3 linked regions of the Homo sapiens genome follow. The protein of the gene in region 1 interacts with the protein of each later gene in a pairwise test. Each region holds a gene or a part of one and is shown in the gene's direction. Other genes may lie near its edges. The genes, in order: ZNF302, TMEM132D and KRTAP10-6.

Evidence for each region.
Region 2: the proteins of ZNF302 (region 1) and TMEM132D interact in a two-hybrid assay, tested with the Homo sapiens proteins (one large-scale study listed by BioGRID).
Region 3: the proteins of ZNF302 (region 1) and KRTAP10-6 interact in binary tests that used the Homo sapiens proteins (3 or more experiments, as listed by UniProt).

The regions. Positions count from the first base shown.
Region 1 is NC_000019.10:34,683,763-34,687,019, forward strand, and holds the end of ZNF302 (zinc finger protein 302), read left to right. Parts: intron 1-229; coding exon of another isoform or gene 230-411; exon of another isoform or gene 412-489; coding exon 490-1,475; 3' UTR 1,476-2,634; downstream 2,635-3,257. UniProt on the Homo sapiens protein: May be involved in transcriptional regulation.
Region 2 is NC_000012.12:129,901,131-129,905,509, reverse strand, and holds the start of TMEM132D (transmembrane protein 132D precursor), read left to right. Parts: upstream 1-1,484; 5' UTR 1,485-2,170; coding exon 2,171-2,249; intron 2,250-4,379. UniProt on the Homo sapiens protein: Regulate neuronals morphology via inhibition of the WAVE regulatory complex (WCR), a complex that controls F-actin cytoskeletal dynamics.
Region 3 is NC_000021.9:44,590,631-44,594,003, reverse strand, and holds KRTAP10-6 (keratin-associated protein 10-6), read left to right. Parts: upstream 1-1,498; 5' UTR 1,499-1,519; coding exon 1,520-2,617; 3' UTR 2,618-2,736; downstream 2,737-3,373. UniProt on the Homo sapiens protein: In the hair cortex, hair keratin intermediate filaments are embedded in an interfilamentous matrix, consisting of hair keratin-associated proteins (KRTAP), which are essential for the formation of a rigid and resistant hair shaft through their extensive disulfide bond cross-linking with abundant cysteine residues of hair keratins.

The DNA.
Region 1 (3,257 bases):
GTTTTTACTGCAGTTGTTTAATATAGTAGTATCAATTCTGTATTTTAAGCTTGATAATCCAGCAGCAAATTGAGATTAATGGAAGGTTGGAAAAAAAGGCTATGAAACAAAATGCAACCTTTCCCACATGAATATAGGCACAAAATGATGATTTGTAATCCTGAATGCCTTCCACATCTTATTTCTGATACTTTCCTTTTTTCCATACTATTTTATCCATTTCGTACAGCTTACCCATTTCCTTTATCACACTCTGTTCCTGCTTCTGTGAACTTTGGATTCTCTGCTCTATTTGAGCATTGTTCAGAAGTCACTGAAATATTTGAGTTGTCAGAACTATGTGTTTTCTGGGTGCTTCATTTCTTATCCAATTCTCCTAATTCCACTGTAGAAGCTTTTTTCAAGAAGTAAAAAAAAAAAAAAAAAAAAAAAAAAAAAAAAAAAAAAAAAAAAAAAAAGGCAGTGCTTTGCTTTCTTGATATATTTCAGATTGGGAATCAAGATGGGAAAACAAGGAATTATCAACAAAGAAGGATATTTATGATGAAGATTCACCCCAACCAGTAACAATGGAAAAAGTTGTAAAACAAAGTTATGAATTTTCAAATTCTAATAAGAATTTGGAATATACAGAATGCGACACATTTAGAAGCACCTTTCATTCAAAGTCTACTCTTTCTGAACCACAAAACAATTCTGCTGAAGGGAATTCACACAAATATGATATATTAAAGAAGAATTTATCAAAAAAGTCAGTTATAAAAAGTGAGAGAATAAATGGTGGAAAGAAACTTTTAAATTCTAATAAAAGTGGGGCAGCCTTCAACCAGAGCAAATCTCTTACCCTTCCCCAGACTTGTAATAGAGAGAAAATCTATACATGCAGTGAATGTGGGAAAGCCTTTGGCAAACAGTCAATCCTCAGTCGCCACTGGAGAATTCATACAGGAGAGAAGCCCTATGAATGTCGTGAATGTGGGAAGACTTTTAGCCATGGTTCATCCCTTACACGACATCAGATAAGCCATAGTGGAGAGAAACCTTACAAATGCATTGAATGTGGGAAGGCCTTTAGCCATGGCTCATCACTTACTAACCATCAGAGCACTCACACGGGAGAGAAACCGTATGAATGTATGAACTGTGGAAAGTCTTTTAGTCGTGTGTCCCTTCTCATTCAGCATCTAAGAATTCATACGCAAGAAAAACGCTATGAGTGTCGTATATGTGGAAAGGCCTTCATTCATAGTTCGTCTCTCATTCACCATCAGAAAAGCCATACTGGAGAGAAGCCTTATGAATGTAGAGAATGTGGGAAAGCTTTCTGCTGTAGCTCACACCTTACTCAACATCAAAGAATTCACAGTATGAAGAAAAAATATGAATGCAACAAATGTCTCAAGGTCTTTAGTAGCTTCTCATTTCTTGTTCAACATCAGAGTATTCATACTGAAGAAAAACCGTTTGAAGTTTAGAAATGCAGGAAATCCTTCAACCAGCTTGAATCACTGAATATGCATTTGAGAAATCACATTAGATTGAAACCCTACGAATGCAGTATATGTGGGAAAGCCTTTAGTCATAGGTCGTCCCTGCTTCAACATCACAGTATTCATACTGGAGAGAAACCTTACGAATGTATTAAATGTGGGAAGACCTTCAGCTGTAGTTCAAACCTTACTGTACATCAGAGAATTCATACTGGAGAAAAGCCATATAAATGTAGTGAGTGTGGGAAAGCTTTTAGCAAAGGCTCGAATCTTACTGCCCATCAAAGAGTACATAATGGAGAGAAACCCAATAGTGTGGTAAGTGTGGAAAAGCCTTTAGATCATATGAATCCCTATACATGTGAGAAATCTTACAGAAGAGAAGCAGTGTTTATCACGGTAAACTTCATTCATAGATCCTCCCTTATTTAACATCAGAAAAATGTATACTGGGGAAAAGTTGTATGAAGGTGGTGAACATGGGAGACTTTTAGCAATGATGCAGATTTTTTTATTAGAGTTTATACTGTAGAGAAATCATATGAAGTCAATAAATGTGGGAAAGCCTTTGTCAGTATTAATCCCTTAATTGACCTAAGTATACTCACACTAGGAAAAATCTGTGTACATGTAGCAAATGTGGGAAAGACTATAGGCAATAGGAATCTCCTGCAAACTCCTACAGGAGAAAAGTTGTATGAATGTGGAAACTTTAGAAATTGAAGGAATTTTTCAGTTCCAAGTGCATCCCTTATTCTATAGGAAATAAACTGGAGACAAATCTCATTTAAGAGATGCAGCAAAGTGTTCACTAAGAGTGTTTATCTTGCCAGACATAAGAAGATGAATGGTAGAGCAACCTGAAGGATTTAGAAATTACATATAAATCTTTGCAGTTATGCTATTTGTAAACAGGATTATATAGGAGAGCAAATAAACATAAGTATGCATTTCTTAGAGCAGTAGCTTGCAGTTTCAGTTGAGTTCTACTTAGAAATTCTTTTTAGCTAGTGGGCATGTGAAGATATTTAGTCACCCAGAGGAGCCAGTAAATGTTATAATGTTAAAAATTAAAGCTGCAAAAGAAATAAAATGGTGTTAATAAAAATTTGGCATCTAATAAAATCATTTTGTATATCATGAACTCTTTCTCTGTGACTGTTTGCGACAAAAAAAAATTTCACTAAGATTAGCCTTAGTATAGCCTTTAGCGGGAGACTAGCAAACTTCGAGAAGAATGGCCTGCTCTTTATACTAAGAATAGCAGTATTTTGGTGAGGATTATTGAGTCCATATCCAGTAGGCTTAATTAAATACATTTCAAGAACATTTACTGAGCATTACTCATGTGTATTACACAGGGATGGGATAAAGGAATCTAGTAGTTCTGAGCTCTAGTGCTGTGTCGAAATCACTGGAAGGACGTGTTAAAGCACAGATTGCTAAGCCTCAGTCCTAGAGTTTCTGTATGAGTTGATTTGAATTTGCATTTTTCACACGTTCTTAGGGGACACTAACACTGTTTGTCCAGAATATAATAATAATGTTATGGTGTCACTGACAACATATTGTTTCCTCAATCTTACCTATTAACCATTTCTTGAGCATCTTCTGTGGACTTAAGAAACACTCCATACTCCTTAAGAGCTTCGAGATGTGTGTGTGTGAAGAGCATTAAGCTTTGGAGTCTTGTTACCTGGGTTTAAATCCAAGTTACATGTATACTGGCTTTGTGACCTTGGACAAACTGTTTCACTGGGTCATGCT
Region 2 (4,379 bases), on another chromosome or scaffold:
GGGGACCAGTGGTTCCAGCACGTGTTCCGCAGGCCGGCAGCATCAGCATCACCTGGAACTTTTTAGGAACGGAGATCGGAAGTCCCACCTTGACCTGCCGAGATAGCTCTGGGGTGGGCCCAGCAACCCAGGTCTAACAAATTTTCCAGTGACTCTCCTGCTGGTTCAAACTTCAGAAACAGTGAAAGAGACAATCTCTTAGGGTCTTTGCAGCGTCGACTCTTAGGAATTTTACAGGAGAGCAATACAAAGAGAAAAGGCAACAAGTTTAAGAAACAAACAAAAGAAAAAACAGAAAGACAGATATATTCAGATAAGTAGATACAGAATAAAAGACAAGAGCACATCTCAAAGGACATGAACCCAGAAAAACAATCTTCGGTAGAACAGCAGTGGCTTTTTTGATCTTCCTTGAAACTTTGAAAGCTAAAAACTCTTAAAGCATTGGTATATTTCTGCAACTACAGGCATACAGGATAAAAAAGTCCATTGCCCCCTCAGTCAGATGATAACGACCCATTTTTATCTACTGAGGTGAATTCACCTCATTAGATTCAGGGCTTGTTGGTTTACAATATTCCTTAAAAATTCTGAATGCTTTTCTTCCCTCTGAGCTTTGATGGGGTTAATTTAAAGGCTCTCGTGGAGCAAAGCAGTTCTTGGGCTACAAATTACAGGACGGTGCTTAGGGATCTTGGTGTGGGAATGTCTTAGTTGGAGATTCCGGGCGGTGTTGAGAATCATGTCTTTTATCTTCTCAAAGCAATGTTGTCTCCTAATGGATCCATTTCCTTTCCCAGTGAGCCCTGGGGAGCACACGACATGTTTCTAGGGACACTAACTTGGGGGATCGCTCTGGGAAGGGGCTTGGGGCCAGCATGACCTCAGTGTGGCGTGTCAGAGACTTCCTCACTGCGATCCCTGGGAGATGCGCAGGGCGGGGCGAGGGCCCTTCTCCAGCCATCCTTGCGCTCTCCCTGGCGAAGAGCCTCAGGTGCCCCCGGGCTGGAGGACCTCCCCTGGGCCTGAGGTTTTGATGACGACGAGAGGCCGGTGGCCAGCTGGACACCTGTTGGGAGAGTGGGTGGCTCCGTCCCCGGGGTGCGCCCGCGCTGGGAGCCCTCGCCCGCCGCCACCGCGCGTCCGCGCTCGCAGGGAGGGTGGCCGGGAGGCTGGGCGTGGGGCGGCCAGGGGGAGGTGGGATTTACTTTGCGGATTGGGGCTCACAGCTGTCACTCCGAAAGGGTGGGGCTTTTTAAAAGCAGACAAATTTTTAAGGCGAAAGCCCCAGCCGGCTCCGGGCACCGTGGCGATCGCCTCCGTTCCGTTCCGGATGCGGTCCTTGCGGAGCGGAGCCCCCGCGCCTGCTGGCAGGAGGCAGCTGCGTTGCTCGGCCGCGTCCCCGAGCCGGCGGGCCCTCCTCCGCGCACATCTGGCCCGCCTCCCCCGGGCGCAGGGGGGAGCCCCGCGTCTCCGGAGCCTGCAGTGCGCTCGGCGCGCGTAGAGCCCCGCGAGCCCCAGCCGGGCCCGGGGCCGGGCGGGCCGAGGCGGCGGCCGGGGAGCAGCCGCACCCGCCAAACTTTGGGTGCCGGAGCGCGCGCGCGCCCGAGCCCCGAGGCGCAGCGGCCGGCCTGGGATGGGGGCTGCGGGCCAGGGAGCCCCGGGCCGCCCAGCGAGCCCGGCCACCCGCCCGGGGGGCTCCGAGCCGCCTCTGCCCGCGTCCCGGGCTCCGCAGCCCCGCCACCCCGGCGCCGCCTGCGCCAGCGCCCGCTAGCCAGCCCGGGAGCAGCTGGAGCCGCCGGAGCCCTGCGCCTGGAGGCGCCCCTCCTTGGGCCACCGGGGGCCACTCTTCGCTCGGGTAAACAGGAAAGGAAATACCCCCTGTGGATTAAAATTTAAAAAAAATTCTGTTGGGGTCGAAGGAGGGAGGTGGGGTTTGCCTGCGCGCGTGTTGGACTCCGGAGAGCAACTCAGGAGCCCGCGCGGTCGTCGCCTCCCGGCCTGGCCATGGACTGGCGGGAAGAGGGAGCAGGGCGCCCGGGCTGCTCGGGCCCCTAGCCGGGCGCTCCCTCGCCACCGGCCCCGCTGCGGGCCTCTAGGGGACTGAGACGGTCTCTTGTTCGCCTGGACGGCGCCGGGGAGCGGAGGATCTGCGCTCCGGGTCTCCAGGATGTGCCCGTCTGAGATGGGGACGCTGTGGCACCACTGGTCGCCGGTACTCATCAGCCTGGCCGCCCTGTTTTCCAAAGGTGAGGACGCCGCGGCCGCCAGGGCCCGGGGACTAACTTCGCCTGGAGTGAGTGTGTGGGAGTGTGTGGAGGATGGGGGCGGCCGGGAGAGAGGGCTCGTGTGCAAGTGTGTGTGCGCGCTTGTGTGCATGTGTGTGTGCGCGCGTGTGAACGTGCGCTCGTGCGGCAGCCAAGCTCCTCGGACGCCCCTTGGCCGAAGGTGCTTGTCCTGGAGCACTTGGGTGGGAGGCCTTAGGTGAGACTACTAAGGAGCCGAAAGGAAAGGAAGGCTGTTTCCTGAAAGCCTTTTCTGTAAAGGGAGAGGGCGTGGGGACCCTTGAGAGGAAAGGTGGCCTCTGGAGGGCCGAGCCGGCTGTCGGGGGAGGAGGGGATTGAGATGACCAGGGAGATTTCTGGAATTTGGGATTGACTTTCCCTGGTGGCACTGACCTATTTGGAAATAATTTTGGAGCACTCCTGTTGTATGGGAATACTATTTTGTGTATTATAGGCTGCCAAAAATATAGCCTGGGGGGCGGCTCTGAAGAAGGGGGATGGGTTTCTCCAGGTCTGCCGCTGTGAGGTTTGGGCACAGGGTCTGGCGCTCACCCTTCCGTAGGGTGCTGGGAGCAGCAGCGGCCCCGCAGGGTGCACGTGGAGTTTCAGCTACAAGTTGTGACCCGAATTTTCCCAGCGGAGCCCTGACTTGAAGCCATGTGTCAAGGCAGGAATTCCTCAATGTTTCCTCTTCTCTTCTGCCAGCATCCCTGTCTGTCATGGGAAGAGCAAGTTTGGAAGCTCTGGACAGTCATTCTTCCTTGAAGAGAAATGGTGTGATTTGTGCGGGAGATTCTTTCTCATGATTGACCTGGGCTGCTTGTGTGTGGTTCCCCCACCCGTGCCCCTTTCCTGCAGATAGATACACTGGGAGGAGAGTGAAGCGTCTCAGCAGTCTCTAATACGTGCTGCAAGAACCCTGTACCCATATTTTTCTGCAAAGATTTTTGAGATGAGATCTCTCTCAGAAACTTCAAAGCCAATTATCACGCACAAAGTCTTTTAATTACATGAATTGTCTGTTCTCTGAGTTCTTCCAGAATCACTGAGGTTATGTTGCTTTGGATCTGATAATAGATGAAGACAGTTGAAATGCCGAGTTCTGTGATGGTTCGATTTAGAAAGAGGAATTTACGTTCCCCCTCCTTCCCTGTCTTTGAAGTGTGGTTGAAATGGGCTCACGTTTCCTAATTATGAGTTAGAACAATCCCTGGGATCAGAGCCTTCTGGATTTATAATGTGCACAGGAAACCAAAGAAAAGGTTGATGAATTCAGTGAACCTGACTCAGGCAGACGTGAGGTTAAAAAAACCAAAATCCACAGCAACAACAGCCCAGCATTTTTTTTTTGGGGCGGGGGGGGTTGGTTCTCACTTGGTTTTATAATAGGTCCAGACTTCTTTGTGTTTATGCTGCAATAACAAGGTTGTATTAAGAAAGGTACAGAATAGCTTTGGAAATAGGACCTCACTATTGTGTTTTTTCACTTAGGTACATAGGTCTGTTACTGATTTCTTTATTAGACTGAGCAGTGTTGAAGAGAATTGTATTTAGCCTAATACTTGTGAACTTTTTCAACTGGGAACACTGAACATGTCCTTAAATGAGGTCCTGTGTGATGTGGAAGCCTCTTTACTAGGTGGCCAAAAATTAGCACGTAAAATGTTTACGATAAGCCTAGCATATGACATATTTTGTGTATTGAACTTAAGCAAGTCAGCCAGACAGTTCAAAAGTGAATCAGTTCTGTGTGGAGACTTTGTACAGCAATTAGCAGAGTCTGAGCACATGGTAGATGATTCAGGATTAGTCACAATATGTCAAAGAACAAGAAAAAAATCAACACCCCTATTAGCAAATTGCATAAAATGGAATTTCATGATGCAGATGTGATTTATACATTCAGGGACAGGGCCATTCTTTTCCCAATGTGTTCATATCACCTCCCTCTAAGATTCTCTGATCACTTGAAAGTTCTCACCCATCTTGCAATCAAGTATGGACTATATTGAAAAGGATTTTAATTGAAAGTAAACACACAGACACACACACATACACACATACCCCAAAGTGCCTCATTTGTCTGGGGCTGAT
Region 3 (3,373 bases), on another chromosome or scaffold:
GTGCACAGCCTCTGTAAACCGGCTGGAGCCAGTCCATGGTTGGGGGTCCCTTATCAGGAGGAGGTTCCTGAAGTCAGTCTCCTGCCCAGTCAGAGCTGTGGTCATGGCTGTGGAACGTGGTCAGTTGGCATCTGCTGGTGGATGAGCTGCAGTCGTTTGAACCTTGCTCATCCTCATCGCGGGGCCAGTGCGTGTTTAGCCACTGTAGAAAAACAGCAGCTGTGGCGTGAGAGCAGAGTCCGTCCTCTCAGTGTAGGGCACGCGGCTTGTCCCTTGCCTGGCGCGGCCTGAGGTCCTGTTTGTAATTTGATATCTTATTGCCAGAGTCTGCTCTGTGGGTCTTACGGTCTCTATTTTAACTTTAGTGCTGGGTAGTGGTTGTGTCGAAACCCTAAAGGGAGGGGGTGTAACGAGGCGTGTCTGACCTCCCTTCCTGTCATGGCCAGGAACGCAGTTTTTCGGGGGTCCCCGTGGGCAAGATGGGATCCATTTAGTCAGTTGAGGGGCTTAGGATTTTATGTTTCGTTTACACTGGCAATGGGTTTGCAGTGAGATCAACTTCTCATGGACCCATTTTGTGTCTTCTGTGCGGGTTCTTTGGACAGATGTCCCTTAATTTTAAGGTGGTGACACTAAGAGGCCTGGCACAGGGCTTGGAAGACAGGGCTGGGAAATGGGCCCAGCAGGAGGCTGGGTGGGGGCTGACGGGCAGCCTCGGAGAAGCAGAGCACACAGAGGAGCCACCCCAGGCGGGGACGAGGGCTGCTGACCGCCCGCTGCTCAGCACGGTTACTCTGCAGGTTCAGAACCCAAAACCACAGCCCAGAAGGCTGTCATGCTGTCCAAGCAGGGAGGGGCCAAGCCCACCGTCCTTGCCCTGGAACACACAGGTCCTGCTGCCTCCAAAACACAAAGACGAGGTGGACACGAAACAGGGCCGGAGGTGAAGAGGCTGTGGGGATGAGAAGTCGTCCAGAGCTCAAAGCCAAGAGGTCTGGGCACAGTTACAGCTGCCCCCCACCCCCACCATGCCATGGCCCAGGGCAGGTCAATGAAGGCTCATGGGCCCCAGGTTGTCCCTCAGAAGATGGCCACAGTCCTGTGTCCGGTGATGGGGGAAGGACCACGCTGGATGAGGGGTTTTCACCACAAGGACACTTCCTGAGGCCGGCTTCCTGCAGAGGGACTCTGTGTCCCGGGGCTGCTGGGGCCAGGGGTGGACGATGCCGCGACCTGTGGCTCTCCCAGCTCCCCGAACCCAGCTGGGACCAGGCCCCGCCCAATTCCTGCCGCCAGGGATCCACATGGGATGGGACACAGCCCAGATGTGATGGGAGATTTATGAGCTGGCCCACATCACGGGCGAACAAACACCCCTAATCCCGGCAGACTCCAGCTCTCGGCAACACGGAAGGGGAAGCTGTGGGCCCGGGGACAACAAGGCCAGGTGGAATAAAAGCCCGAGAGCCTCAGCACCTCACAGGCTCACTCCCTCACCCTCCACCAGTTCAACCCCAGCATGGCCGCGTCCACCATGTCCGTCTGCTCCAGCGACCTGAGCTACGGCAGCCGCGTCTGCCTTCCTGGTTCCTGTGACTCTTGCTCCGACTCCTGGCAGGTGGACGACTGCCCAGAGAGCTGCTGTGAGCCCCCCTGCTGCGCCCCGGCCCCCTGCCTGAGCCTGGTCTGCACCCCAGTGAGCCGTGTGTCCAGCCCCTGCTGCCCAGTGACCTGTGAGCCCAGCCCCTGCCAATCAGGCTGCACCAGCTCCTGCACGCCCTCGTGCTGCCAGCAGTCTAGCTGCCAGCTGGCTTGCTGTGCCTCCTCCCCCTGCCAGCAGGCCTGCTGCGTGCCCGTCTGCTGCAAGACTGTCTGCTGCAAGCCTGTGTGCTGTGTGTCCGTCTGCTGTGGGGATTCTTCATGCTGCCAGCAGTCTAGCTGCCAGTCAGCTTGCTGCACCTCCTCCCCCTGCCAGCAGGCCTGCTGTGTGCCCGTCTGCTGCAAGCCTGTCTGCTCTGGGATTTCCTCTTCGTGCTGCCAGCAGTCTAGCTGTGTGAGCTGTGTGTCCAGCCCCTGCTGCCAGGCGGTCTGTGAGCCCAGCCCCTGCCAATCAGGCTGCACCAGCTCCTGCACACCCTCATGCTGCCAGCAGTCTAGCTGCCAGCCAACTTGCTGCACCTCCTCCCCCTGCCAGCAGGCCTGCTGCGTGCCCGTCTGCTGCGTGCCTGTGTGCTGTGTGCCCACCTGCTCTGAGGATTCCTCTTCATGCTGCCAGCAGTCTAGCTGCCAGCCAGCTTGCTGCACCTCCTCCCCCTGCCAGCACGCCTGCTGTGTGCCCGTCTGCTCTGGGGCTTCCACATCATGCTGCCAGCAGTCTAGCTGCCAGCCGGCTTGCTGCACCGCCTCCTGCTGCAGATCCTCCTCCTCCGTGTCCCTCCTCTGCCACCCTGTGTGCAAGTCCACCTGCTGCGTGCCCGTCCCCTCCTGTGGTGCCTCTGCCTCCTCCTGCCAGCCCAGCTGCTGCCGCACGGCCTCCTGTGTTTCCCTCCTCTGCCGCCCCATGTGCTCCCGCCCTGCCTGCTACAGCCTCTGCTCTGGCCAGAAGTCCAGCTGCTGACAGCCCTGGATGTGATCCGGAGTCCCTTCCCACCAGGGGCTGACCTCCCAGCTGCCCCAGCAAGCTCTGCCCTCTCTGGCTTTGACACCCTCAGAAGATGGGGCAGGCTCTTTGTCTTAGGGACCAGGATGCTCCCCCTGTCCTTCCCAGATGCTGGCTGCATGAGAGACCCCAGCTACTCCCCCAGACCCAAGTTCTGCAGAACTAACCCCCAGCAGGCCTGGTTCCACCCTGGGCAGCACCCCCTCTAGTTCTAATAAAGCCGCCTCTGTCTCACACCAACCTCTGTCCTGTCTGTGGACCCCCGGGGGGCACAGGGTGAGGTGGGAAGTGATGCCACCCCTGACTGCAGGGAGAGTCCTGACCCCCAGCAGGCCTGGCTCCACCCCTCTGTCTCTGTCGACTTTTCATCCTGTCTGTGGACCCCCGAGGGGCATGGGATGAGGCAGGAAGCAATGCCTTCTGGTGCTGGCCTCTGTGAACCCTGAAGGCCAGTCTCCCTCTTAGCCCCGTGGGCCCCCAACCCCAGCACATGGCCCCCCGGCCCATCTTAGGAAAGCTGCCTCTGGAACCAAGGCCAGGAGTTTCGGGACAAAGTGGACCCTGGCAGCACTCTGGGCCCCTGAGCCACATTCACCCTCCCCAGCTCATGGCTGCCCCCCAGGACTGGGGTAGCCCACCCGGGGCCTAGCTCCAGCCAGCAGCCTCACCCCTCCTGTTACCCCTGGGGAGACCAGCTATGGACCACAGTGCCCA